4 linked regions of the Homo sapiens genome follow. The protein of the gene in region 2 interacts with the protein of the main gene of each other region in a pairwise test. Each region holds a gene or a part of one and is shown on either strand. Other genes may lie near its edges. The genes, in order: ANKRD46, KIR2DL3, RNF152 and FUNDC2.

The links.
Region 1: the proteins of KIR2DL3 (region 2) and ANKRD46 interact in binary tests that used the Homo sapiens proteins (3 or more experiments, as listed by UniProt).
Region 3: the proteins of KIR2DL3 (region 2) and RNF152 interact in binary tests that used the Homo sapiens proteins (3 or more experiments, as listed by UniProt).
Region 4: the proteins of KIR2DL3 (region 2) and FUNDC2 interact in binary tests that used the Homo sapiens proteins (3 or more experiments, as listed by UniProt).

What each region holds. Positions count from the first base shown.
Region 1 is NC_000008.11:100,528,747-100,535,770, reverse strand, and holds part of ANKRD46 (ankyrin repeat domain-containing protein 46), read left to right. Parts: intron 1-2,459; 5' UTR 2,460-2,562; intron 2,563-3,310; exon of another isoform or gene 3,311-3,415; intron 3,416-5,910; 5' UTR 5,911-5,937; coding exon 5,938-6,248; intron 6,249-7,024.
Region 2 is NC_000019.10:54,733,614-54,741,522, forward strand, and holds the start of KIR2DL3 (killer cell immunoglobulin-like receptor 2DL3 precursor), read left to right. Parts: upstream 1-4,899; 5' UTR 4,900-4,932; coding exon 4,933-4,966; intron 4,967-5,893; coding exon 5,894-5,929; intron 5,930-7,909. Other genes in the region: KIR3DL3 (killer cell immunoglobulin-like receptor 3DL3 precursor), read left to right, coding at 1,640-1,744, 2,207-2,259, 2,358-2,483. UniProt on the Homo sapiens protein: Receptor on natural killer (NK) cells for HLA-C alleles (HLA-Cw1, HLA-Cw3 and HLA-Cw7). Inhibits the activity of NK cells thus preventing cell lysis.
Region 3 is NC_000018.10:61,882,998-61,890,021, forward strand, and holds part of RNF152 (E3 ubiquitin-protein ligase RNF152), read right to left. Parts: intron 1-7,024. UniProt on the Homo sapiens protein: E3 ubiquitin-protein ligase that acts as a negative regulator of mTORC1 signaling by mediating ubiquitination of RagA/RRAGA and RHEB.
Region 4 is NC_000023.11:155,029,825-155,036,848, reverse strand, and holds part of FUNDC2 (FUN14 domain-containing protein 2), read right to left. Parts: intron 3,447-7,024; coding exon 3,296-3,446; intron 1-3,295. UniProt on the Homo sapiens protein: Binds directly and specifically 1,2-Diacyl-sn-glycero-3-phospho-(1'-myo-inositol-3',4',5'-bisphosphate) (PIP3) leading to the recruitment of PIP3 to mitochondria and may play a role in the regulation of the platelet activation via AKT/GSK3B/cGMP signaling pathways.

The sequences.
Region 1 (7,024 bases), on a different chromosome or scaffold from region 2:
ACGGAATACTACTATGGATAAAAAAGGGACAAACTATGGATACACACAGCTACCCTGGATGAATCTCCAGAGAATTATACTGAGTGAAAAGACCAATCCCAAAAGGTTCCTGTATGTGCTGTATGGCTCCATTTATACAACATTCTTGAAATGACAGAATTAAAGAAGTGGAAGACTAGGTAGTGTTTTCTAGGTGTTAAGGAGAGACTGGCATGGGAGGGAAGCAGGAATAGCTAAAAAGGGCAACATATGAGAGATTTTTCATGGTGATGGAAATGTTCTGTATCTTGACTATATCAATGTCAGTATCCTGGTTGTGATGTTGTACTATAGTTTGGCAAGATGTTACCATTGGGGGAAACTGGATAAAGGGTGCACAGGATCACTCTGTGTTATTTCTTACAACTGCATATGAATTTATAATTATCTCAAAAAGTTTAATTTAAAAAAGTCTTTAGTCCTCTTCACCCATTGGACAATCGTTAAATATGTGCTCTGATTTGTATTCACTTTATGACTTCTTAGGGAAGCTATTAACAGAGTCTAGTGAGTAAGGTCTAACTGAGGTCTTGGAAGTTTTCTTGGCAGGTTTCTAGTAATTTAGTCTAATGAATTTGTATAATATTATTATGAAATCATACAAATCTGTAATTTGTTCAAGTGTATTTTCTTATGGGCCATTGTAATATCCAAAGAAAATGGCAGGCTGGTTGCGGTGGCTCACGCCTGTAATCCCAGCACTTTGGGAGGCCAAGGTGGGTGGATCACCTGAGGTCAGGAGTTCAAGACCTGCCTAGCCAACATGGTGAAACCTCATCTCCACTAAAAATACAAAAATTACCCAGGCATGGTGGCACATGGCTGTAGTCCCAGCTACTGGGGAGGCTGAGGCAGGATAATTGCTTGAACGCGGAGGCCTCTGCAGGTGAGTCGAGATTGCACCACTGCACTCCGGCACCAGCGACAGAGTGAGACTCTGTCTCAAAAATAAAAAAAGAAAAAATTGCAGAAGCATTGTCCTTCTTGTGGATTTAAGAGAACATTAGGATTATTTGGGGGCATGACCATATGAACTATAATTCCATCTCTAGATGAAAAACAAAATTTTTTCTTTTTCCCTAATGTGAGCTCTACCACATCCAGAATAACCCACTTGCACCATTTTAATTAACATTGAAAATTAAAGCCAAATCATACATTAGAGACAGGCTCTAGTCGTTAAAGACTCAGCTCTAGAGGTCAGGACAAGAGAGGAAAAATATTAGGCTTTGGGTGAATACATAATATTTGTTTAAGGAAATCAAGGTAAGTGGCTCCGTGATATGAAGTTCGTCTAAATTGATACTGTGGTATCACAAAAGAAGTAGGAAATGAGGAGCGTAGATGTTTTGTGTGTTATCATGTCTTCGTGATATTTACTGACCCTCGTGTGGGACTGGTCCTCAGGTACAGTTTGTCAGCTATTGTCATCAGTTCCAGCCTAGCACTGATAGCCTTTATGATACAACCTGACTTACATATTGTAAATGGAGCTTTGTAAAATACCATTAATTATTTCCCTATATAAATTTGTTCACAGGGATTTGATAACAATGAACAAGGATGATCGGTAAAAAGTTAACCTGTATTTCACCCTGACCAGGAATTTGGGATTTGGACTTGATAGCATGGTATCTGGCACATTGCAGGCACACAGTGAATGTTTGTTTCATGAACTAATATTGCTATTTTTGTGGTCCTTACTGCCTGCCCATGACCCTGCTTCCACGGTCCTTCCAGAGAAGAGCTGAGTGGGCAGACAGGGTGCCCTCGTAGTCTCTCTCAGTGCAGAGAAGTGCAGCCTGGGTGGGGGAGCAGCGTCAGGCTATGTAAAGAAGACTACAGATAGACTTGGGCCAGCTTTTATTTCACACTGAAAAGACAAGGAAGGGAACAGATTTAAAGAGATTTAAGTACCAGCATTCAAGGTAGATTAGAAATACTTTTTCTTAAATGTATCCTGTTTGGTTTAAATATAAGTATTGGCTTTTTAAACTTATTTTTTCCCACTATGAATAGTATTTTATTTATAAAAATGCTTTTGTGGACTAATCTGGGATCTAGCCTCCATTTATAATGTGAAAAATATGCATTCTGAATTCCAAGTAATGACTGAGAGTGAATTTTCGGAGCCCAATTTGTTCTTTAGTGATGGCACATAATTTGATTCTTATTCTTTTATCTTTCTGTCTTGCTTTCTTGTTTGTGGGCCACAGAGCAGCTTCTATTAAGCCCTTCTTTGCTTCCTTTTCACTACTTTGTTACTCGTCAGATATTTTTCTGGCCTCACAAGTTGATGCCTCACCTACAGATTTTCTAGAGAATTTCTTCAGGCTCAGTAACCTGTCTGTATTTAATAGAACAGTGAGTTCTTTTTCTCACCACACTTCTATTATAACTTAATTTTCTATTTACTGTAGATCCTTGCCAGCACATTACAGAATATTTTTGTTGAACCTTCTTGAGAATTCAGAGAAACTGCTGAGTGACCACTGAACGAAAAGATCTAATCTTAAGGCTTACGTGAGTATTTACTACTGTGGACTTCCTCACAAGATGTGAAACCTTCAGTGAACTGCTTTAGGACAGATTCAGTTCTGTGATCAAGATGAAAAATAACTATCATTGGGCTTATTAAATGTGGGATTAAGTTTAGTAGTTGCTCAGGGACACAGAGAAACTGACAAAATACACACTTGTTCTCACCTGAAAAATAGACACAGAGACTTGTATTTCTTGCTGAGCCAACACTCAGAAGTATCCTAGTCTGCAAACCACAAGAATTCTTACTGTGTCTGAATCAAAAACACCAACTAGATTTTTTAAATTATCTATTTTTAAAAATTTAACCAAAACACATTACCTTTTGAAAAGCACTTGATATGTGGCATTTCATTTTGAAAAAGGTTTATGATAGCTTTTCCATTTTTATGATTCAATACTGTGCAAGCTTGTCCAACCTGCAGCCCAGAACAGCTTTGAATGTAGCCCAACACAAATTCATAAACTTTTAAAAAACATTCTGAGATTTTTTTTGCAATTTTTTAAAGCTTATCAGCTATCATTATGTATTTTATGTGTAGCCCAAGACAATTCTTCTTCCATTGTGACCCAGGGAAGCCGAAATGTTGGACACCCTTGCTGTAAGGGAAAATATTTAGATTACCCTCGCAAAAGAATTCTTGACTATTTTATTGAGTAAATTCTTCTCATTGAGTTTTTCTGTTTGTTGGTTTGGTTTGGTTTGGTTTGGTTTGTTTTTTTGAGACAGGCCTCACTTTGATGCCCAGGCTGGAGTGCTGTGGCTCAATCACAGCTCATCGCAACCTCGACCTCCCGGGCTCAAGTGATCCTCTCACCTCAGCGTCCCGAACAGGTGGGACGAAAGGCGCGCGCCACCATGCCTGGCTAATTTTAAAATATTTTATAGAGACAGGGTCTCTCGCTATGTTGCCCAGGCTAGTTTCGAACTCCTGGGCTTCAAGCTATCCTCCCATTTTGGCCTTCCAAAGTACTGGGATTACAGGTGTGAGCCACTGTGTCCAGCCAGATTTTTAAAAAGTCATCATATGTATCATAATCTGAAGTTTATTTTGATTTTAATCTCTGTAGTTTTTAATCATAAACTTTTTTTCGTATTTGAAATTATTCTTAACAGCCCCTTTTCACCCTTCATTTCATATCCAGTGAGTCATTAAGTTGTGCTAATTCTGTCTTCTCTGTTCCTCTCCAGTGCGTCCCCTTCTGCCTGCCACTGCCTTAGGTCAGGTTTTCATTTCTTGCCTAGATAGCTGCAATGACCTAATGATTGATCTCCCTGCCTCCAGTCTTTGTCTCTACAATCCAGTGCCTCCATATTGCCATCCAAGTCATCTTTCTGAAAGACTAATAAGACTGTGCCATTTCTTTGACTTAAAATTCTTCAGTGGGCTGGACTCATTGAAATAGTAGTCCCAGCTATTTAGGAGGCTGATGTGGGAGGATTGCTTGAACCCAGGAGTTTGAGGCTGCAGTGAGCCATGATTGTACCACCGCACTCCAGCCTGGGTGACAGAGCAAGAACCTGTCTCAATTTAAAACAAAAAAAATCCTTCAGTGGCTCCTCACTGAAATTCAGGTATAAAAAAGCCTAACTGTGGAGTTGTTAGGAAGATTAAATTAAATTCATTAAAAGCTCCTAGTTGGTACCTGGCTCAGAACAAGTCTCAGTGTATGTTAATGCCCACTCTTTCCACAGAGAGCCCATGGTAGCAGCAGAGCCCTTGTGTAAGGCAGCCCCAGATTTTGGGACAATGGCTCTGCTGAGAAGCCAAGTTGAAAGGAATAGGGGCAGCAATCTCACCAAACTCAGCAGCCAGGCTTCCCTGAATCCCCTTGAGGTTAGGCACAAGAATAGATGGGTCTAGCGTCCAGTTCCATCAGTGTTTCAGAAAGAGACTTTACCTGATCAGCTGTATAAGCCAAGTCCATATGTGACTAAGCTTTTGTAACCTAAGAATAAAAAAGCCATCTCTAGAAAAGCATTGGTCTCTGCCTTTCTGTTTTCTTGTTTGTTTTCTCGTCAATTTCCTAGCGAAGTTTCTTTTGACAGGCTTTAACTCTTTCTTAAATGAACCTAGGGGAAGAGAGAGAGACCTAGTTGTATGCAGTTTGGTAGAGCAAAATGTCCTGAGAGTTCAGGTGCACCAGGCAGATGCTGAACTCTCACCTGAGTTCAGGTGCGCCAGTGGGGCCAGGAAACATCTGTGAAAGAGATGTGGGCAAACTGGTGAGCTGGATGAGTCCAAGAGATGAAATTCACATCAGACCTAGTTGGGATTGCTGCTTTGTCCTGACTTGGTATTCCCAGACAGCCCTACTTTTTTTTCCCCTCATCTCTCAGTCTTTGGACGGTGGGAATTTGGCACAGTCACATATTGAGATAACCACAGAGCACAGCAGAATAAGATCAATAGTGGAAAAAGCATAATCTGAATTGATTTCATGCTCTGATTTTTAAATTCAGTTTGTTACATTCCTTAGCCTTTCTCTTAAAATTTGTGCTATAGGCCAGGCGCGGTGGCTCACGCCTGTAGTCCCAGCACTTTTTGCAAGGCCAAGGCAGGCGGATCATGAGGTCAGGAGTTCAAGACCAGCCTGGCCAACATGGTGAAACCCCGTCTCTACTAAAAATACAAAAAATTAGCTGAGCATGGTGGCAGACACCTGTAATTCCAGCTACTTGGGAGGCTGAGGCAGGAGAATCGCTTGAACTCGGGAGATGGAGGTTGCAGTGAGCCAAGACCGCGCCACTGCACTCCAGCCTGGGCAATAGAGCGAGACACCATCTCAAAAAAAAAAAATTGTGCTATAAACATAACACTCTACAGGTCTTTGTTGAGTATAAGTTCTTTTCATGCAAGTAGTTTTAGTTACCATGTAGAATATCTCAAATACAAGAAGAAGCAAATATATCAAAGAGAATTAGTTTGTATTAAATAAGAATGTCTACCAGCAGTAGCATTTATATATGGGTAGTTCTTTGATGTTTAAACACCATGTTATCTATGTGTTCTGACAATGTAATACTTAAATCTAAGCTATTATGTCTTGCTTAACTTTAAAAATATCTCTTAATCTTTTTACATGGTGAAAAGCAAAATAGAGCTTTACAGTAATTGAATTGGAATTTTAATCCAGCAGATGTGAAGAAAATAAAATGTTTTAATGGAAAATAAAATACAATTGATAACTTTGTTGTTGTTTCTGTTTGGTCATTTATTTATTAGAGGCAGGAGGCCAAAAAGGATGAGAAATATTGCTTTTCTAAATGACTCCTTTGTCTTGATTTCATTTGTCTTCATGGAATCTCACTCACCTATTTCATTACAGGCGTGTTCCATCCACCACATCAGAACAATGTCGTATGTTTTTGTAAATGATTCTTCTCAGACTAACGTGCCCTTGCTGCAAGCCTGTATTGATGGGGACTTTAATTATTCCAAGCGGCTTTTGGAAAGTGGCTTTGACCCAAATATTCGTGACAGCAGGGGCAGAACAGGCCTTCACCTTGCAGCAGCTCGAGGGAATGTAGACATCTGCCAGTTACTGCATAAATTCGGTGCCGATCTTCTGGCCACAGATTATCAAGGAAACACAGCTCTTCACCTCTGTGGCCATGTGGATACTATCCAATTTTTGGTTTCCAATGGACTCAAAATTGATATTTGGTAAGTTCTCTGTTGTTTTAGAAGTCTAGTCATTTCTTCCCATTAATCTCTCAACTGATAATCTTATCTTGGGTCTGTTGGTTTTGTTTCCTCATTAATCAGTTGAAATAAGTTCAGAAAGCATTGAAGACAGTGTAATCCTGTTAGGCAAGTGAGGGAATGAGGGGCTGACTTCTAGATTTTTGCTAAAGCAGCATATTTTTTTCTATGAAAATAGTAGGTAGTTTCTGCTACTAATTATGTAGTGTTACAACAAGGGAAGAAGAAGAAAAGAACATTTGTTGAAAATCTATGAGCTAGACTGTGTTTACTTGTTAGCTCATTTAGTCCTCAGAATGAAGAGCTCTCACAATAGGTGTTTTCATTTTACAGATTAGATAGTGAAGACAAAAAAGGATTGGACAAAGTTCACACAGTTTATAGAGGATTTGAAAAGGTCACAGCTTATAAGGGACAGAGCTGGAATTTGAACCTAGTTCCGCTGACTCTAACGCTTGTGTGCCTTCTGTCATGTAACGCACCATGTGAGCTTCATAATCTCCCGGGAGTCCAGGATCCTTTTTAGACTGAACAATTTGAGGAAGTCATGGGGCTTTTTGTTTGTTTTAGTGATACTCTGCTTTTTGAGTGGGAACGATGTCAAGTCACCTGTAAAACTGAGCTTGACCTTTAAATTACAGTTACACACTGCCCTAATTTATTGATGCCATAATGCCCCTAAATCTGAATAAGACAGTAAATGCTTTTGTTTCTGCAGGACAAAATGGGGTAGGAAT
Region 2 (7,909 bases):
TAATTCTTTGACCCTTTATCTTATCCATTAAACAATCAGGTTAAACCTCTTCCTTATTTGGCTTTCTGTGAGCTTGGGATCATATGGAAAATGTGAAAGCCTCCTGAACCCACCAGCACAGGTCCTGGAATAGAGAACGTGCTCTGTTCATGGCATAAAACTTGCCCCTTCACCCAAATCCCCCAATTCATCTCTACTTCCAATCACCTATGGAGATACAGATAGATCATGGGGAGGTAAACACTAATACTCTTTGGAGTGAGCTCAGATCTTGGACTCAGAGACCAGTGCCAGCACTAGCCCCTGGTCACATTTCGTACTAACTCACAGAAGGACAGGCTGTATTGAAACAATAAACGACGGAGAGGGCGGTCCTTCCCCGTGCTTCTCGGGTGGAATAGCAGCCTAATATATGTCTCAGCAGATCACAAAAAGTAGCATGTTGTTCCTGGGCTACATCATTATTTCATGGCTGTTTGATTTAAGTCAGTTCTACTTCACTTTTTTTATCTTGATTTCATTTTTTCTTTCTTTTCTTGGAGAATGTAATTTTTTTGAGTCAAGAGGGTTGTGGTGGTAGAAACTGTAAAGCACATTCGCTGTGTATCAATCCCAATCCAGTCTTCCCAGAGAAGATTCTAAACACCTCCTGGAATGCACCTGGGCCTATACCAATTCCTATCACTCACCGTCACTCCAGGGAGACAGAACACACAGAGAACACATTACACAGGCAGGTTCATTACTAACAGATAAGCAGCGAGTGACAACAGAAACCTACATTTCAATGTGAGCCAGTCCCTCAAGGCTCAGAAAAGCTGCTCGAGACATGTGGAGTCACCCCATATGCAGTGTATCTGGGGGAAATCAAAAAGCAGCCCAGCCTGGGTTTTGTACCCTGGAGCCACAGGAAGCACTCAGCTAAAGCACTGCATGACGTCCTCCTCCAGGAAGAACAGGAAGACAGCCCAGGCTGTTCTGGGATGTTCCTCCTGATCTCAGGACGTTGCTGTCTTAGTCCATTTTTGTTGCTCTAAAGGAACACTTGAGCCTGGGTAACTTCTAAAGACAAGAAATGTGTTTGCCTCACAGTTCTGCAGGCTGTACTGGAAGCATGGCACCAGCATCTATTTCTTGTGACGGCCTCAGGCTGCTCCCACTCTGGCAGAAGGGAAGGAGGGTCTGTCTGTGCAGAGACCACAGAGATCACACGGCAAGAGAGGGACCAAGGGGGAGGGGGAGCGATGGAGCTTCCAAGCTCTTTTAACAACCAGTTCTCCAGGAACTAATAGAGGGGGAACTTGCTAACCCCGTCTCCTTGGAACAGCATTGATCTGTTCATGATGGATCCACCTCCATGACCCAAACAACTCCCAAGAGGCCCAACCTCCCACTCTGGGGGTTACATTTCAATGTGAGGTTTGAAGGGGTCAAACATCTAAACTAAAGCAGTTGTATCCTCAGCACGTTCTATGGTTACTACAACTGAGAAAGCAGGAGGAAGCTAGGTCTCCCGCCATCTGGGTGCTTGTCCTAAAGAGACGTTGTATGTGGTTACCTGTCAATCAAGAAATGTGAGACAATTCATATAGAGGAACTGCTATGATTAGCTTCTTATTGGTGTCTTGTCTTCCTCCAGGTAACTCCAGAAACCTGCACGTTCTGATTGGGACCTCAGTGGTCATCATCCCCTTTGCTATCCTCCTCTTCTTTCTCCTTCATCGCTGGTGTGCCAACAAAAAGAGTAAGTCTCACGAAGCAGAAGCCAGAGAGCTCAGGGCCATGTGGGGAAGCAGGATGGGAGCACTCAGGTGTGTGTTCCTCACAGACTGGATGGTCCCTGGCCCAAGGCAGGAGCCACAGAGGCAGGACTTTCTAGAGAGAGCACCAGACTCCCTGCCTCTGCCTTCAGCTCACAGACCATTGCCTGATTCTGAACCGTATCCTCACATCCCCTGCAGCCACTCACATCCAGGAGAAGGTTCCATGACAGGCAGAAAGTGGGACACAGAATCAATAGGATGGGAACTCAGAGCTATACATGGGATGGATCCTTGAGCTCAGAGAGATAGAATGTCTGAGTCTGCTGTTGGCAACTGAGGGACCTCAGGCACCTATGGCCTCCCCCTGTATGTTGGTATCTGCTTATGAAATGAGGACCCAGAAGTGCCCTCCGAGCTGTTTTGACGACTTCCGTCTTCTACAGATGCTGTTGTAATGGACCAAGAGCCTGCAGGGAACAGAACAGTGAACAGGGAGGTAGGTGCTCCTCCGCCCAGCCTCGTGGCTAGTCTTATTCCCAAAGAGTCCTGGAAAATGTGAGCACCCTCCCTCACTCAGCATTTCCCTCCCTCCAGGACTCTGATGAACAAGACCCTCAGGAGGTGACATACGCACAGTTGAATCACTGCGTTTTCACACAGAGAAAAATCACTCGCCCTTCTCAGAGGCCCAAGACACCCCCAACAGATACCAGCGTGTAACACGGAACTTCCAAATGCTGAGCGCAGATCCAAAGTTGTCTTCTGTCCACTAGCACCACAGTCAGGCCTTGATGGGATCTTCTAGGGAGACAATAGCCCTGTCTCAAAACCGGGTTGCCAGCTCCCATGTACCAGCAGCTGGACTCTGAAGGCGTGAGTCTGCATCTTAGGGCATCGCTCTTCCTCACACCACGAATCTGAACATGCCTCTCTCTTGCTTACAAATGTCTAAGGTCCCCACTGCCTGCTGGAGAGAAAACACACTTGCTTAGCCCACAATTCTCCATTTCACTTGACCCCTGCCCACCTCTCCAACCTAACTGGCTTACTTCCTAGTCTACTTGAGGCTGCGATCACACTGAGGAACTCACAATTCCAAACATATAAGAGGCTCCCTCTTAACACGGCACTTAGATACGTGCTATTCCACCTTTCCTCAGAGTATCTTTCAGCCTTCTGTCAGCAGTAAAACTTATAAATTTTTTTTATAATTTCAATGTAGTTTTCTATTCTTCAAGTAAACATGTCTGCCCTCATGGTTTCTTCAATGGGACTCTTTTCTTGCCTAAGGCTTCCGGTGTTATCATTACCACGTCCACATAACCCCATCTGTTCTCCGCTGGGTTCTCAGCCCTGGACTCTGAGCTTCTGGAAGCATGGTGGAGCCTGAATTGTCTCTGAGACTCCAATTTCCATCCAAAGATGCAGCACATAGGAGGTTCCAAGGATGGTGAATCAGATGAACAAGTGATATTCTTACTCTCTGCAGATCTGGAAAGCTGGCAGAGTCATTCCACGATGAAACATTTGTAGAGTCATAGGCCTTGTTAGTCTCATCTCCACAGGGACACGTATCAACACATCATCTTTCATACTACTATAAATAGACAGTCACTCCTCCATATCTCTGGGGTTTACACATGTTTATTGAATCAGCAATAAATCAAAAATATTTTGAGAAAAAAAATCCCCGAAGTTTCAAAAAGCAAAAAACTATGTTGAATCGACACAAATTGAGTGGCGTGTAGGCTGTGTCAGGAATTATAAGTAATCAAGAGATGATTTCATGTATACAGGAGGATGTGCATGGGTTCTATGCAATTGCTATGCTATTTTTTTTTTTTTTTTGAGACAGTCTCACTCTCTCACCCAGGCTGGAGTGCAGTGGCGTGATCTCAACTCACTGCAACCTCCGCCTTCCAGGTTCAAGCGATTCTCTTCCCTCAGCCTCCCCAGTAGCCTCCCCTAGGATTACAGGCACGTGCCACCATGCACAGATAAATTTTTTTGTGTGTATATTTTTAGTAGAGATGGGGTTTCAGAATGTTGGACCAGCTGGTCTTGAACTCCTGACCTTGTGATCTACCCAGCTCAGCCTCCCAAAGTGCTGGGATTACAGGCGTGAGCCACGGTGCCCAGCTTCACTATGCCATTTCATGCAAGGGGCTTGAGCATCTGCAGATTTTGGTATCTGAATGGGGATCCTGGAACCAATCACCCAGGTATAGTGAAGGACCATGGTATATAATTTTTATTTGTCAATCTTAAAAATAAAGCATAAAAAATTTACAACAACAAGATAAAAAATAAGAAGTGTTTTTATAGTGTGAGGATAAGTTTAGATTTATTTTTTCCTACGTGTAACCCTATGGTCCTGTGTTATTTGTTGAGAAAATATTCTATTCCACCTTAAACTACATGGCAGCCTTTGTCAACTATAAAGGGACTGTGTATCCACAGATGTATTTTAGACACAGTTTTCTGTCCAGTGGTTCTCTGTATCCCCTCTCATGAGGATGCTGCATTTTATATAAACTTATAGAACCCCTTAAAATTTGGTAACCTGAGTCCTCTGATTTGTTATTATAGGTTATTTAGTTTGCTTTTTTTTTTTTTCTTGAGACAGACTCTTCCTCTGTCACCCAAGCTGGAGTTCAGTGGCTTGAGCTCAGCTCACTGCAACCTCCGTCTCCCAGGTTCAAGCTATTCTGATGCCTCTGGTTTAGTAGTAGAAACTCAAGCAGGAAAATTAGAATGGCTTCTTGTCACAATTACTCTGATAATGTTAATAATACCTGTTAGACATTTTGCACATTACATATGAAGAAGAGTTTGAATCTCAGATAAAAACAAAAATACATCAAAAATCTTTAATGTAAGCACAGAATTCAATCATCTCGTGTATGAGAGGTTGGATCTGAGACGTCTTTTGAGTCTGGTCGTAGTGAAGGACGCAAGGTGTCAATTCTAGTGAGAACAATTTCCAGGAAGCCATGTTCCGCTCTTGAGCGAGCACCCACTGGGCCTCATGCAAGGTAGAAAGAGCCTGCGTACGTCACCCTCCCATGATGTGGTCAACATGTAAACTGCATGGGCAGGGCGCCAAATAACATCCTGTGCGCTGCTGAGCTGAGCTGGGGCGCGGCCGCCTGTCTGCACAGACAGCACCATGTCGCTCATGGTCGTCAGCATGGTGTGTGTTGGTGAGTCCTGGAAGGGCATCGAGGGAGGGAGTGCGGGGATGGAGATCGGGGCCCAGAGTTGGAGATATAGGCCTGGAAGTGGAGTTATGGGCCTAGAGATGGAGTGATGGGCCTAGAAGTGGAGATCTGGGCCTGGAGTGGAGATCTGGGCCTGGAGTGGAGATATGGGCCTGGAGGTTGAGATATGGGCCTGCAGTAGAGATATGGGCTTGTAGTGGAGACATGGGCCTGGAGATGGAGATATGGGCCTGGAGATGGAGATATGGGCCTGCAGTAGAGATAGGGGCCTGGAGTGGAGATATGGGCCTGGAGTGGAGATATGGGCCTGGAGTGGAGATATGGGCCTGGAGGTGGAGATATGGGCCTGGAGGTGGAGATATGGGCCTGGAGTGGAGATATGGGTCTGGAGGTGGAGATACGGGCCTGCAGTAGAGATATGGGCCTGGAGTGGAGATATGGGCCAGGAGTGGAGTTATGGGCCTAGAGGTGGATATCTGGGCCTGGAGTGGAGATATGGGCCTAGGAAGGAGATATGGGCCTGGGTGTGGAGATATGGGACTGGAGAGGTGATATGGGCCTGGAGTGGAGATATGGGCTTAGGGTGGAGATCTGGGCCTGGGGCGGAGATATGGGACTGGATTGGAGATAGGGGCCTAGGGTGGAGATCTGAGCCTGGATTGGCGATATGGGCCTAGGGTGGAAATATCAGCCTGGAGTGGAGATATGGGCTTGGGGTGGGGATATGGGCCTGGAAACTGGGTCTCTGCACAGCCGACAGCCCTGTTCTTGGGTGCAGGTAGGCACTGAGGGTGAGTTTAACTTCAGCCCAGGAAGGGCCTGGCTGCCAAGACTCACAGCCCAGTGGGGGCAGCAAGGGAGGCCTGGTTTGCCTGCAGATGGATGGTCCATCATGATCTTTCTTTCCAGGGTTCTTCTTGCTGCAGGGGGCCTGGCCACATGAGGGTGAGTCCTTCTCCAAACCTTCGGGTGTCATCTCCCCACATAAGAGGATTTTCCTGAAACAGGAGGGAAGTCCTGTCGGGGAGTCTCTCATAAACTAGGAAGAGAGGACCCTGGGGTGCTCAGCCCACATTTCTGACCTCGCCTCCCTGGCCTCTCAACCCCTTGGCAGAGTCAAGTTCTGTGGGGACCAGGGTTAGACTGGGGTGCTCAAAGCTGGGGTGTGTGGTTGGGAAGTGGTAGGAACAGCAGATCCTCTGAGGACAAAGGTGTTACTCACACACTTCAGCGTTTCCATGATGGTAGGGGCTGCAGTGTGGCTGCTGTCATTCTACCAGAAGAGGTGGGAAACCACAGCCATGGCCCTGACATTCCAAATCCTCTGATGGGGGCTCAGTTGTTTATTTTCGTTCAGGCATCCGCTGATATCCATTCACAAAGGACATGCCCTCCACCTCATGTCTACCCTGTGTTGTTTTATGTGAGTAATCTTACAGTATTAAAATCTAGTAGGAGTCTCTTTACTCAGCACTTGCTCAAAGTTCTCAGCTGAGGCTTTTGTTGTAGGGAGACACCATGTCTTTGCGGGATGGGTCCTTCCTTCAGCCCTGGGCACCAAGGTGTGATAGTAGCCATAGAAACGTGGAAAGCGAGGAGAATCTTCTGAGCACAGGGAGGGAAGGGCAGTTCCACATCCTCCTCTCTAAGGCGGCGCCTCCTTCTCCCCAAGGTGGTCAGGACAAGCCCTTGCTGTCTGCCTGGCCCAGCCTTGTGGTGCCTCTAGGACATGTCATTCTTCGGTGTCACTCTTATCTTGGGTTTAACAACTTCAGTCTGTAAAAGGAAGGTGGGGTGCCTGTCCCTGAGCTCTACAACAGAATATTCTGGAACAGCCTTTTCATGGGCCCTGTGACCCCCGCACACACAGGGACATACAGATGTCGGGGTTCACACACACACTCCCCCAGTGGGTGGTCAGCACCCAGCAACCCCCTGGTGATCGTGGTCATAGGTCAGAGGGCTCCTGTCTTGGATTCTCCTTGTCCCACCTCCTGAATCCCAGAGCTTCTGTTGGGCATGTCCTTGAGGGTCCCATCACGCAGGCCCTGACTGTATTTGTGGTAAAGGGGGATTGAATACAGGGAAATGGGTGCTGTGGTGGGAAGAATAATTGTCCCCAGTGATGACTACATTCTAATCCCTGGAGTCTGTGACTATTTATGTTATAGGGGAAGGGACTGAAGGGGAAGATGGAGCTCATGGGGAGACAGCCTGGACTGTCCCACTGGGCTCAGTGTAATCACAAGGGTGCACATGAAAGGAGGAGGAAGAGGGGAGTGGGGATTAGAGCAGTCCAGTGGAAGTCTTCACCAGCTTTGAAGGTGGAGGAAGGCCAAGATCCATGAATGCAGGTGGCCTATAGAGGCTGGAAAAGTCAAGGAACTGATTCTCCAGAGTCTCCAGAGGGAACAAAGCCCTGCAGATGCCTTGATTTTAGCCCAGGAAAAATAGGGTCCAATTTCTGTCTCCAGTACTGGAAGGTGTCAGTGTGGTCTCTCCTGCTGCCATGCTTCTGATAATTTTCTACAGCAGCAACAGGAAACCAACACTGGAACCCAGGTCAAGGACAAGTTAAGAAACAACCCAAGGAAAGCCAGGCATGGTGGCAGGTGCATGTAATCCTAGCGACTCAGGAGGCTGAGGGCAGGAGAATCACTTGAACCCAGGAGACAGAGGTTGCAGTGAGCCTAGACCACACCACTTCACTCCAGCCTGGGTGAAGGAGTGAGACTCTGTCTCCATAATTAATTAATTAATTAAAGAAACCAAACAAGGAGAAGGTTGGCTACCCTGAGATCAGCAAGGGTGGGATGATGATGCCACCACCAGGCTCCATCCACATAGGGAGGGGTTGATACTCCTCCAACCAGCACCAGGAGCCAGCCTATGGAAGCTGGCACCATGGAGAAGGCACAGGCATGG
Region 3 (7,024 bases), on a different chromosome or scaffold from region 2:
ATGAAGAGCATCAGCTCATACATAAACACACTCAGATACCAGCACAGGAAACCCAGAGCATATCTAGATGCATGCATTTTCAAATGAGTGATGGAAGGGCCCAGAAGAGTGAGGCGCAGACTGGTTCAAAGCCCACAGTGTTCAGCCCCTCAACCTGTCCTGGAATGCATGTCTCAGAGGCCTCTTGCACTTCTCTATGCAGCTTTCAAAAATATTTCTGAAGAATAAATTGATGCCACCATTTCAATAAGTCTTTACTGAGTGTCTACTGTGTACCGGGCCCCAAGCGGCTACCCCTTTTTAAGAAGAATTTCTAAAAGGTTTCATTAACTTTATATTTATATTGTATAGCCTAGATTCCTTGCCTTTATTAAACAGTTCTCTTCTTTTTAATAATAATAAATATCCCATTCCAAAAAGCAGATTCCTAAATAAAGGGGTTGACAAGGCTACAATGTTTTTTCCCATTTTATTCTGCCCCGCTTGCTCCTCTCTTGTAGGATGGTTGTATCTCTACTAACAATGTTAGATCTCTACAAAGCCTGCTTCAGGATGTCAAACAACAATCACAGAACAAGACTGGAGGGTGACCAGCTCATCCCAATTTTTCTGGGACTGTTTTAAAACGGAAAGTTCCATGACCCAGGTATGCTCTTAGTCATGGGCAAGTCTGGGGGTCACTCTACTCCCAAGAAAGCAGACCCTGAGAAAGAGGATGTCCTTCATTTCACTTGGGAAGAGTGAGGCCACAGGAGAAAGGCGACTCATCTCCTTTAAGGAAGACTCAGGTTGCCTGGGGGCTAGCTCAGAACCCTTTCTCAGACTCCTCTCCTCCAGTTGCTTCCAGCTTTTTCCCCACTTCCTCCTGAGAAGGCCTATCATTTTAAACTCAGAGCCACTGAAAGCTTTACAGACTTTCAAACCAAAGACTCTGACAATAATGACAGGTAAAAGAAACTCCCATGTAAACGCTGAAGGCTGTAGTTACTTGGATGCCATCACCTCCTTGGCTAGCTTAAGGGCTTCTTCAGGTTAGACCATGCCTATTCATCCCGATATTTCCAGAACTGAGCCCAATGATTGGTGGATGGTAGATGCTGGATATAAGGACGTTAGCAACAGCTGCCATTTATTTAGTCTTACATTGTGGAGGGCAACACACTAAGCACTTTATATGTAAGTCTCTCCTGTTCTTACACTAACTCAATGAGGTCGGTTCTCCCCCATTTTGCAGCTGAAGAACAAACTCAGTCAGACCTTGTGCACTCAGGTCACGTGGCAGACGTGAAATTTAAACCCAAACCCATCTTACTTTTTAAAATTCCAGTTCATAATGACTTACCTGAATTAGAGCCATGTAAGGCAGGCATATATGCTAAGGTATCAAGAATTGAGAGAATATCAGATACATTTCTTTTATTCTCTACCCTTTTAGCTTTGCCATTACAAAAAAAAAAAAAAGCAGAAAACCAAATTAATTATGAGTTAAATACCTACAGGAAGCTAGAAGGCAGGGATTTTTTTAGAATTATGCCTGGTAAAACATAGGCATTCAACATTCTTTTGTTTGTTTGTTTGTTTGAGACAGTCTCATTCTGTCGCCCAGGCTGGAGTGCAGTGGCACAATCTCAGCTCACTGCAACCTCCACCTCTCAGGTTCAAGCAATTCTTCCTGCCTCAGCCTCCAGAGTAGCTAGGATTACAGGTGCCCACCACCATGCCTGCCTAATTTGTATCTTTTAGTAGAGACGGGGTTTCTCCATGTTGGCCAGGCTGGTCTTGAACTCCTGACTTCAGGTGATCTGCCTGCCTCAGCCTCCCAAAGTGCTGGGATTACAGGCGTGAGTCACCATGCCTGGCCATTCAAAATACATTTAATGAATGCAATTGTTTGCCTAATAAGTGGTTTAAATACCTGATGCTCAGTGTTTCAAATGCTATTTTACACACCACCATAGGTGAATGGATGGATCTGTACCTTCAGTTTCTGAAGTACCAATGTAAAGGAGTGGAGTGGATGGACTATTTATCCCAGTTAAGGACACCTCTTTACCTGCATGGTTGAATTAACTATTACTCACTTAAAATGGCAGTAATCTTATGTCTCATGCAACAAAAGGGGTAAATTCTCCAAAGTACACAAATTTGTCCATGTGCTCACCAACCACTTCTAATCTCATATTATTAATCTTCGAGGAAGCAATTTGCAAACCTACCCCAGAACAACACAACTGCAAAAGAATATCACAACAAATACTTGGTTCCTGAGACACTTATCTCAGCCCTATTCACTACCTTTCAAACTGAGAGTGTTTTGTTTGTTTGTTTGAGACAGAGCCTCGGTCTTTTGCCCAGGCTGGAGTGCAGTGGTGCGATCTCAACTCACTGCAACTTCTGCCTCCCAGGTTCAGGCAATTCTCCTGCCTCAGCCTCCCAAGTAGCTGGGATTACAGGTGCACACCATCATGCTTGGATAATTTTTGTATTTTTAGTAGAGATGGGATTTCACCATGTTGGCCAGGCTGGTCTCAAACTCCTGACCTCAAGTAATCCACCCGCCTCAGCCTCCCAAAGTGCTGGAATTACAGGCGTGAGCCACCACGCCCAGCCGAGAGCGTTATTTTAATATTAATGTATTTCTGGTCATTTTCTTCAAGCAGCTGAACATATTTCCCTCTTTCATAATAACACTCTCATAATGATCAAGCATTTTGAGTATCAAAGAAGAGTTTCTATCATGTGAATGAGTATTCCAAAATCAAAAAAAGGGAGGTAAAACAGATGTATATCACAAAGGTATTGAAGCCTTTAATTATAAACGCAGGTGGGGCAGTCAGCGGTGGGCAACTACACCCAGTCATCACAAATCCAGGCATCAATGCCTGCTCCGTTAGATTGTGGGGTGGTCTGGTAGGCTGTAAAGTCCTAAAGCTGCTTGTTGTATGTCACCAAGTAGAGGTTTTTTTTCTTTTGCTTTCTTTTGCTTTCTTTTTTTTTTTTTTTTTTTTTTTTTTTTGTGGGCAAAGTAGGAGGCAAATGGAAGTTGAAAAACAGGCTTTGAGTAACAACTAATTTTGTTAGAATCATGACCCTCATTGAGAACATTCACCTCCCAAACATTGGTATACGTACTGCAGCCTGGTCATTCTAATTTGATTCAACATTTAATCATTATTAATGCAAGTAGGGGAAGCTCTTAAAAATAAGTTTCTATCTTCTTAACTTCCTTTAAGACTTCAAGCTAAAAGGGTCTAAAATTCCTTTAAATCACTGTAAGTCAAAATCGTTTTCTGTGTTGTCAAAGAGTCACCAATGATTTGTTTATTGAGCCCTTCCTGTGTACAAACACGGTGGCAAACACACAATGGTGTAAAGCCTCATCCAGTCATCTTTAAGGAGCTTGCAAGAGAACTGAGATCTCTTTGAGTGCCTATACAACCAATCTGTTTTTCACTTTCAATACAGTATTCAATAAACTACATGAGATATTTGATGCTTTAATACAAAATAGGCTTTTTGTTACATGATTTTGCCCCCATTGTAGGCTAATTGCAGGTCACAACTGCTACATCAGCCAGCCACAGGCCCCCTTGGAAGGAACTGTGCCCCCAACCCTCTCCTGCACTAAGCAGGTCCAGGGTGAATGATAACTGGAAGGGTCCCATTCACTGGAACTCTTGGGAAATGTGGCTTGATGACAAGACATCCTGGGACATCTCTTCAATTCACCTCCCTTTATGCAAACAAGCTTGAGTGAATTTCTATTCTTTGCAATTAAACAGAAAGAAAAAGACACTTCAATCGTAGGTGATAATACAAGACAATCTATGACAAGTGGCCTTTGTAGAATGAATGAATGAATGTTGAATGAAATGAGAGATGGAGGCAATTTTGCCAGAGAACTTTGGATTATAAAGAATTTCTAAAGGCTAATGTGATCAAGTTAAATTTTTCAGAAGAGTTGAGAGCTGAACTGAGGCTTCGATGATAGGATAGAGGCAGAGGAAGGAAGAGGACATTTTAGGCCACAGAATGTGCTAGAATAAGAAAGAGGCAATGAAAAACATTTTGGGCAACAGTGGATTAACCATCCCAGCTAATGTTCAGTTTTAAAGTCAGGCGGAGCAAAAGTCGAGGTTGGAAAGGAAGTTTGGGGTCAACCTGGGGAAAACTTGAAAAGCAAAACTGAAGAATATGAGCTTCCTCCCACAAGGGCAACTAAAAGTTATTAAGTGAGGGGATGAAGGATTAATTGGCCTAATGGTCTAAGAGTGACAGCATTTTCCAAACTGGAGTGGGGTGGGAAAGCCAGAAAGTGAGCAAGACCATTGTCATAGCCCAGAGAGAAACAAGGTTCTTGACTAAGATGCGGCAGTGGCAACTGTCACTAAGTGAATCTGTCAAGGAGCAGAAACAGCAATAGTAAGAAGAATGCTCCTGGCTAGGTGCGGTGGCTCACGCCTGTAATTCCAGCATTTTGGGAGCCCAAGGCGGGTGGATCACGAGGTCAGGAGTTCAAGACCAGCCTGGCCAACATGATGAAACCCTGTCTCTACTAAAAATAGAAAAAATTATCCCAGTAATCCCAGCTACTCGAGAGGCTGAGGCAGGAGAATAGTTTGAACCCAGGAGGCAGAGGTTACAGTGAGCTGAGATCATGCCCCACTGCACTCCAGCCTGGGTGACAGAGTGAGACTCCATCTCAAAAAAAAAAAAAAAAAAAAGAATGCTCCCTATTTCTACAGTATCTGTCAAAGCTTTTACCAAAATCTCTTCAATTCTTGTCAAACCTCAGTGAGGAGTGCACCAAGTGTGATTATCTGGATGTCTAGATCAGAACTGAGCCGGGAAAGTTACACTTCCTTGGTAGGTGGGAATGCGATAGTGGCAGGGGAGAGGAGGTTGTAGAAAGAGAAAATACAAGCACAGAACACAGCATTTGGAGATTCTACTTCCTCATAACTTTGCTCCCACCAGCAGCACATCTTCATTTGCTCAGCCCCTCCTTTGCATGAAAGGCAGGTAACCAGGAAGTCTATGTGATGTTTGAGTAAGTTTCATCATGCAGGATGTTTGCAATGAGTTTTATTTATGCAGGCATTAGTATATCAAGGGGTAAATAAGGCATCCTCTCCACTCCTAGGCGATCACAAGCAGCCCCCTCACAACTCCACGAAGAACGTAGTCCAGGCCTTAGCAGCCAAACGTGATCTAGGCCAAGAAATCATGGACATCAAGAACCACCCAAAGGAGATGCAGGTCACAGATACACTATTTGAGGTCTCCCTCTTTAAATCCTACAATGACAGTGAGTCAATTAGAAATTGAAAATCCCTAAGCATGTAACAAGCACAGACGGTTCCCTACTTACAACTGTTTGACCTATGACCTTTGATTTTTTGACTTTACAATGGTGTGAAAACAATACACATTCAGTAGAAACCGTACTTTGAGTGCCTATACGACCAATCTGTTTTTCACTTTCAATACAGTATTCAATAAACTACATGAGATATTTGATGCTTTAATACAAAATAGGCTTCTTGTTACATGATTTTGCCCCCATTGTAGGCTAATGCGCATTTCTGGGCACAGTTAAGGCAGACAAGGCTGAGCTATGATGTCAGTAGGTGTATTAAATGCATTTTCCACTTACAATATTTTTAACTTATGAGGGGTTTATGAGGATATAACCCCACTGTAAATTAAGAAGCATCTCTACCAACTTTATCCCAATTGTGATTTCAATCATGGAGTCAGACTGCTGGATCACACAGTGTAACTCTCGAAGCCATGGGAAAAGAAGCAGGAAAACCAACACCTTCTTCCTTTCCGGTTTCCATGACGTCACAATGGGCAGTGCCAGAAACCACTTTCATGCCACAAGAGTCCTCTACCTGACCAGCCGACTTGGGTATGAAATTAAAGTGGTAGGGACCCAGAGGCCAGAGAAAATATAGAAATGCATTTTGGGGCTTCCCAAATATAGTTCAAGACTAGTCCCTCGGGGCTTTCATTTTCCTTCTCCCTCAGTCTGTGCCTGGCCCTCAGCCCAACCCCAGGCACCCTGAATGGGTTTTTGGATGGTCTATATCTGGTTCTTCCTGCTGGTCTCCAAGCTGCTCATCTCCCAATTCAGAAACGCTTTGGGTGCTACATCTTATCACTTGAATGAAGCCGGGTGGTCTCAACCTCCCTAGGTTGATACTGATATCCCCTCAGTCACTGTGACTTGGAGACTAACATAGTTTACCACACCACTTCCTTATTTGGAGAGCTATCTTTATAAAAATGACTTTGCCAAGGTGATTACTGAACCAAAAGCAATATTATTTTGTTAAATTCTACACTTATGCTTAAGGTATTTATCAAATCTTTAAAATGGCTCACCCGTGCATGCCGTTATCACAATGTGAACAAAGATATATGAGTGAACAGCTCTTCCCAAAGCAAAATCTCTGCAAGCCACCAACTGCTGAATCCAGAGCACCTTGCAATGCCTATTCCATAGCATCCAACTCTTTTTAGGGAGAGTGAGGCAAGGAAGGCTTTAGAACTCACCACCCTCCTAGTCAATACAGTTGCTGATGGAAGCACAAATGTCCCTAAACTCTCTGGGTGTTCTACTAGTCCTGTGACCAGAAAAAGCCTCTTGCCCAAATTGCTTTTTCTAAACATCAAAGTAACAAAAGGGTGACCCAAGGTTACCCTAAACACATTCCTGCCCCCTTCAGATCTTATCTGTTGCCCTGTGGTCTCTGCTGCAGGAGGCCACCTCCTGGGTGGCCCTAGGCCCATTGCCACTCTTTTTCTACCCTGGGCGGTTCCAAACAAACTCAGGAAGCCTTAAACAAGAGGCAGATGGTGAGGAAGAGAAAGTCTGTAAGTAACACCTCTCTATTACATAATGCTAAGCTCACAACCTCCTAGAATCAGCCTTGAAAATACCTAATGGCCTTTCACTTCAGAGTAAACATGCACTTGAAATAGGCAAAGAGAGGATTATAATTATTTTATTTGATGA
Region 4 (7,024 bases), on a different chromosome or scaffold from region 2:
CAAAACAGCATGATAATGGCACCTAGATCAATTTGGCAGTACAAAGAGCTCAAAAACATATAGTCAACTGATTTTCAACATAGGTGTAAAGACAATTCAGTGGAGAAAAAGACAGTCTTTTTTTTACAAATGTGGGGACAACTAGATACCCATACGCAAAAAAAACTTGGATTCCTACCTTATACTATATACAAAAAGTAAATCAAAATGGATCACAGAACTAAATATAAAATCCGAACCTATATACAATCTAGAAAAAGCGAGAGAAAATCTTGGTGACCCTGGATTAGGCAAATATTCTCAGACATGACACCAAAAGCTGGAGCTACAAAAGAGCTGCACTTCAAGATTAAGAACTTCTGCTCTTTGAAAGGTACAGTTCAGATAATGAAAAGCTACAGAGAAGTAATATATTTGCAAATCACATATCTAAGACTTCTATCCAGAATATTTAAAGAACTCTCACGATTCAGCAGTGAAAGAAAACCAACAACCCAATAAAAATATGTGGAAAAAGATTTGAACAAATAAGTCATCAAAGATATATGAATGGCAAAAAATAAGCCCGTGAAAATGCTCAACATCATTAGTCATTAGAGAAACGCAAATTCAAACCACAATGAGATACAACTTCATACCCACTAAGATGTTCGTAATCAAAAAGATAATACCAAGTGTTAGTAAGGATGCAGAGGAACTGGAACCCTCACACATTGCTGGTGGAGATGTAAGATGGTACAGGCACTTTAAAAACTGGCAGGTACTTGTAAATTTAGAACATTCACTTACTACGTGACTCAGCCATACTATTCCTAGATATTTACCCAAAAGAAATGAAAGCATATGTTCATACAAAGACTTGTACACTTGTATACAAACTTGAAGTTTTATCTGTAACAGCTAAAAAGTGAAAAAAAAACTCAAATGTCCATCAAAGGTGGATGGAGAAACAGATTGTGGTACATCCATACAATGGAGTACTACTTAGCAATAAAAAGGAATGAACTGTTGATAAACAGAAAAGCACAGATTATCTCAAAATTATTATGGTGAAGGCTGATGCAGGAGAACTGCTTGAACCCAGGAGGCGGTGAGCCAAGATCGTGCCACTGCACTCCAGTCTGGGCAACAGAGCAAGACTCCGTCTCAAAACAAAAAAATATATTATTATGGTGAATAAGAGAAGCCAGACAAAAAAGAATATATACTATGTAATTCCACTTCTAAAAAGAATCTAGAAAACATAATCTATAGTAATAGAAAGCAGATCAGTGGCGGGAGGATGGCATGAAGGAAAGAGCGTGGAATTACAAAGAGGTACAAAGCAGCTTTTGAAGTGATAGGTATGTTCATTATCTTGACTGTGGTGATGGTTTTATGGGCATGTACATATGTAAAAATGTATCAAATTTTATACTTTAAATATGTGCAACTTATAATATACCTATTTATTAAATTTAAAAACTAAGAGATAAAGAAAATAGCCAAGATGTTCCTAAAGAACAAGATAGCAGACACACACATATGCATGCGCACACACACTCACATAAAGCAGCGGGGAAAGGGATAGCTTTCACAATAAATTAAGTTGGGACAAATGGGTATTCCACATGGGGAAGAAAAGAAGGAATCTACCACATACTGAGCACAATAACAATTCCAGGTGGATAATAAATCTAAATGTGAAAGGTCAAATAATAAAAGTTCTGAAACATGGGGTAGGCAAAGATTACTTAAATAAGCCACAAAAATCACTAACCATTAAGGTTAAGATTGATAAAATTGACTATATTAAAAATAAGATCTTCAGTTCATCAAAAGATACCATAAAACGAAAAGATAACCACAGAATGAGTGAAAATATCTATAATACACACAACTAACAAAGGACTGAGAATATTCAGAATATATAAAGAACTCTTACAGCTTAACAAGGGAAAGAATGACAACTTCAGAGGAAAAAAACTAGAGTGGAACTGAAAGAGGAGATCCAAATGGTCAACAAACATACGTAAAAGTCGATCAATGTCACTCCTACTCAGGGAAATGTAAATGAAGCCACCATGAAATACTACTACCTAACTACCAGACTGGTAAAATTTTTATAGTCTGGATTTAACTTGATTACCTCGCTAAGGAAAAATTAACTAATTTTTTAAAAATTTAATAGCCTGGCAAAATCAAGTGCCACCATGTAGAACAACAGGTTCATTTGGTCCTTGCTGGGACTGTAAACTGTTAAAAACAGTTTTGGAAGGTGGTTTGACATTATTTAGTGAAGCTGAAGATACCTATACCCATTACCTAGCAATTTCTAGGTACAGACCCTACAGAAATGTATGCACATATACACTGGGAAATCTAATACTCATATAAGCATAGTATTAGCCAAAAATGGAAACAACTCCAATATCAGTCATCAACTGGATATACTGTGGTATATTCACATAATGGAACTCAAAATACAAGTGAAAGTGAAGAAACTACAACTATACACAATGTAGTTGAATATATGAAACATCAGGTTGAGCGAAAAAAGCAAGACTCAAAAGAATACATACTGATTGCATTTACTTTAAGGTGGAAAGCAGGTAAACCACAGTATGTTATTTAGTGACATAACTGGTGTTAAAACTACAAAGAAAAGCAATGAAATAACTGCTTAATAACCTCTCGAGTTTCTAGGGCGCTAGCCACGTTTTTTTTAACCTTAGCAGTTGTTACATAGGTGTTCACTCCAAGTATTTGCTAAAATGTACACCTGTTAAATGTGCTGTTCTATATTTGCTATATGGTGCTATAAAATTTTTCAAATGTAAAGAGTCTATGAGATTAATGGATTCAATATTCACCTATGAAATTTGCTATTACTTTTTGAATTTATTACAAATGAAACCATAAGCTGTGTCACATTAAGTTATCATCTGACATAGCTAATAAGTAGTTAGCTCCTTATTCTACCAGTTACCAGCTATGTGGCCTTGGGCAAACTAACCTTTCTGAGCCTCAGTTTCTATAAAATGAGGATAGAAAATAACAGTACTAATTCCAGAGTTGTGAGAAGGAAATGAGATATCTATGTAAATACTTCAAACAGAACCTGGCATATAGGAAACAATCATTATGTGTAACCATTAAATGGTACTTTAAGATGATGTTTAGATACATGCTCCACATTAAGTGACCAATTTCACAGAAGCCAATGTGTTTTCACTGGTTAAAGGAGATGATGGTACCTATAACTGCAATACTAAATCATGCACAAAAGACAGTGGACATCTTTCACATCACTTACCATCCAGTGACACCTCCAATGAACAGCTGGGTTGCCACGCTATACTTTTCTGCTGAAGGTCCAGATTCCTGCCCGAACAGCTTACGCCACCATGGCTGCTTCTTAGCAAATTCCGCAAGGTCCAGTGACTCAAAATTTCCCTCAAAGTTTCCTACAAGAAGTAATACGTTAAATAAGAAAATATTTACTTTTATACCTAACTAGATTGAGATATTTAAAGAAACAGACATAAATGTAATAAGAAACCTCCAAATATTCTATTTTAAATAGTAAATTTATTCTAAGTTGCAATTTTGGAAAATCAGACTAAAATCAGCAAATACTAATGTCTATATTACAGGGAAAAACCTAGAAAATCTCAAATTAGTCCTCTAGTTTGTCCTCTCAAATTTAAAAATAACAAAAAAGGCTGGGCGCGGTGGCTCACGCCTGTAATCCCAGCACTTTGGGAGGCCGAGGTGGGCGAATCACCTGAGGTCAGGAGATCGAAACCAGTCTGGCCAAAATGGCAAAACCCCATCTCTACTACAAATACAAAAATTAGCCAGGCGTGGTGGCAGGCACCTGTAATCCCAGCTACTCAGGAGGCTAAGGCAAAAGAATTGCTTGAACCCAGGAAGCAAAGGTTGCAGTGAGCCGAGATAGTGCCGCTGCACTCCAGCCTGGGCAACAGAGCAAGACTCCATCTCAAATAAATAAATAAATCCAAAAAGACCTATAAAAAACTGCCAGTAATGCATCCCAAATGAAACAAATTTGCCCCTTCTCTTCAGAAGTAGCTCAATGCTATTCAGTAATCCACAAATTTTCTAAGTACTACGTGGATCTCCAGTGATAATGAAGATGAGAGGGTAATGTTTAATTGAGCTCTTACTATTTACCAGGCAATGTGCTAAACATTAATCATGTACATCTAATTAATCCACAGAATAAGGTAGGTACTACTTATTAACTCAATTTTATAATTAAGAAATGAAGGCCAGGCATGGTGGCTCACACCTGTAATCCCAGCACTTTGGGAGGCCGGAGGCAGGTGGATCACCTGAGGTCGGGAGTTCAAGACCAACCTGACCAGCATGGAAAAACCCCATCTCTACTAAAAATACAAAATTAGCCGGGGGTGGTGGCACATGCCTGTAATCCTAGCTACTCGGGAGGAGAATCACTTGAACCTGAGGGGCAGAGGTTGCGGTGAGCCAAGATCGCACCACTGCACTCTAGCCTGCGCAACAAGAATGAGACTCCATCTCAAAAAAAAAAAAAAAAAAAAAAAGAAGGCACCAGGCGTGGTGGCTCACGCCTGTAATCCCAACACCTTGGGAGGCCAAGGTGGGCAGATCACCTGAGGTCAGGAGTTTGAGGCCAGCCTGGCCAACATGGTGAAACCTCGTCTCTACTAAAACTACAAAAATTAGCTGGGCATGGTGGCATGCGCCTGTAATCACAGCTACTTGGGAGGCTGAGGCAGGAGAATCACTGGAACCGGGGAGGTGGAGGTGGCAGTGAGCCGAGATCGCGCCACTTCACTCCAGCCTGGGCAACAAGAGTGAAACTCCGTCTCAGAAAAAAAAAAAAAATGAAATGAAGGTTCCAAAGTTAAATGATTTGCCCAAGCATGGAGAAAGACTTAACAAAATGTCAATCCCTTTCTCTGTGGGAAGATAATGTCAGGCTCCCCTACTATACCCAGCCCTGTTTCCCTGGAAACACACCGCACTAAGAAATGTCTGATATGAAATGTCAGCAATGTACTATTCAAAGCTGTTTACTGTAAAATTGACCTCAAATGATCAACTTCATCTGGCATGGAGTGTGTACAATCTTTTCACACATAATGTAACAAACAATAGAAAATGACTACTACCCATGCAAAGGCAAAGCCATATAAAGGAAACAAAATTTGTTTAAATAAAAGAAATAGAAGCAGGCCAGGCACGGTGGCTCACGCCTGTATCCCAGCACTTTGGAAAGCCTGGGGGACGGATCACTTGAAGTCTGGAGTTCAAGACCAGCCTGGCCAACATGGTGAAACCCTGTTTCTACTAAAAATACAAAAATTAGCTGGGCGTGGTGGCATGTGCCTGTAGTCCCAGCTACTCGGGAGGCTGGGACAGGAAAATCACTTGAACGCGGGTAGCGAAGGTTGCAGTGAGCCAAGGATCGCACCACTGCACTCCAGCATGGGTGACACAGCGAGACTCAGTCCCAAAAAGAAAAAAGAAAAAGAAACAGAAACAGAAACAGAACCAGTGATGATCAAGATGCTGAAGTAAGCAAATAACAATGATCAAAAACTGCTCAAAAGATTAAACATATATGTAATTGGAGTTCCAGAAGATTAGAAAGAATGGGATAGAAGTAATATTCAAAGAGGTACACAAAAGTTATTCAGGCCGACAAGAAATGATGCCACATGGAAATATGGAAATGCAGAAAGGAATGAGACACTGGAATGGGCAAATAGGTGGATAAATCTAAATGAATACTTACTGTAAAAAAATAATAATTACAGAAATTTTATACTTTAAAATCAAAGAAAAAAATCAGAATAAAAAGTAGAAAATAGGGGCTGGGCGTGGTGGCTCATGCCTATAATCCAAGCACTTTGGGAGGCCGAGGCGGGTGGATCACCTGAGGTCAGGAGTTCGAGACCAGCCTGGCCAACATGGTAAAACCCCGTCTCTACTAAAAATACCAAAAATTAGCCGGGCATAGTGGCAGGCGCCTGTAATCCCAGCTACTCAGGAGGCTGAGATGGGAGAATTGCTTGAACCTGGGAGGCGGAGGTTGCAGTGAGCCGAGATCAGACCACTGCCCATTTTCCTGGGCAACAAGAGCGAAACTCCATCTCAAAAAAAAAAAAAAAAAAAGTAGAAAATAGGAATAGAAAGGGATTTCTTCAATCTGATATAGGACATCTATGAAAAATATACAACTAACATCATACTTAATGGTGAAATATGGAACACTTTTCTTTCCCTAAAATCTATTCAACTGTTTTTTGTTTTGTTTTGAGACAGGGTCTCACTCTATCACCCACATTGGAGTGCAGTGGCACTATCACAGATTACTGCAACTTCAAACTTCTGGGCTCAAGCAATCCTCCCACCTCAGCCTCCCCAGTAGCTGGACTACAGCTGTGCACCACTATGACCAACTGATTTTTTTTTTTTTTTTTTTTTTTTTGTAGACAGGAGGTCTCACTTTGTTGCCTAGGCTGGTCTGGAACTCCTGGCCCCAAGTGATCCTCCCTCCTTAGCCTCCCAAAGTGCTGGGATTACAAGTGTGAGCCACCTCGCCCAGCACTGTACTGGAGTTCCTAGCCAGTGCAACAAAAGAAAAGAAATAAAAGTCAAAGAGATTAGAAAGGAGGTACAACAATAATTCTGTCTTCATTGGCAGATAATATAACGGTGTATATAGAAAACCCAGAAAAATCTACAAAAAGGTACCAGAAGCAAGGTCACACATTATAAGACCAATATTAAAAAGTCATTTGAATTTTTGTGTATTAGAAATGATGAATTGGAAAACAAAATAATTTTAATTGCAAAAATTATGTTGTAGTAAATTCAATGAAAGATGCACAAGACCTGTTCACTGTAAACTAGAAAACACTGCAAACTACAAAACACTGCCAAGAAATTGAAGATGACCTAAAATAACAGTGATATACTGTTTATGTTTTGCAAGACTCAATATTTTTAAGATGTTCATTCTCTCCATATA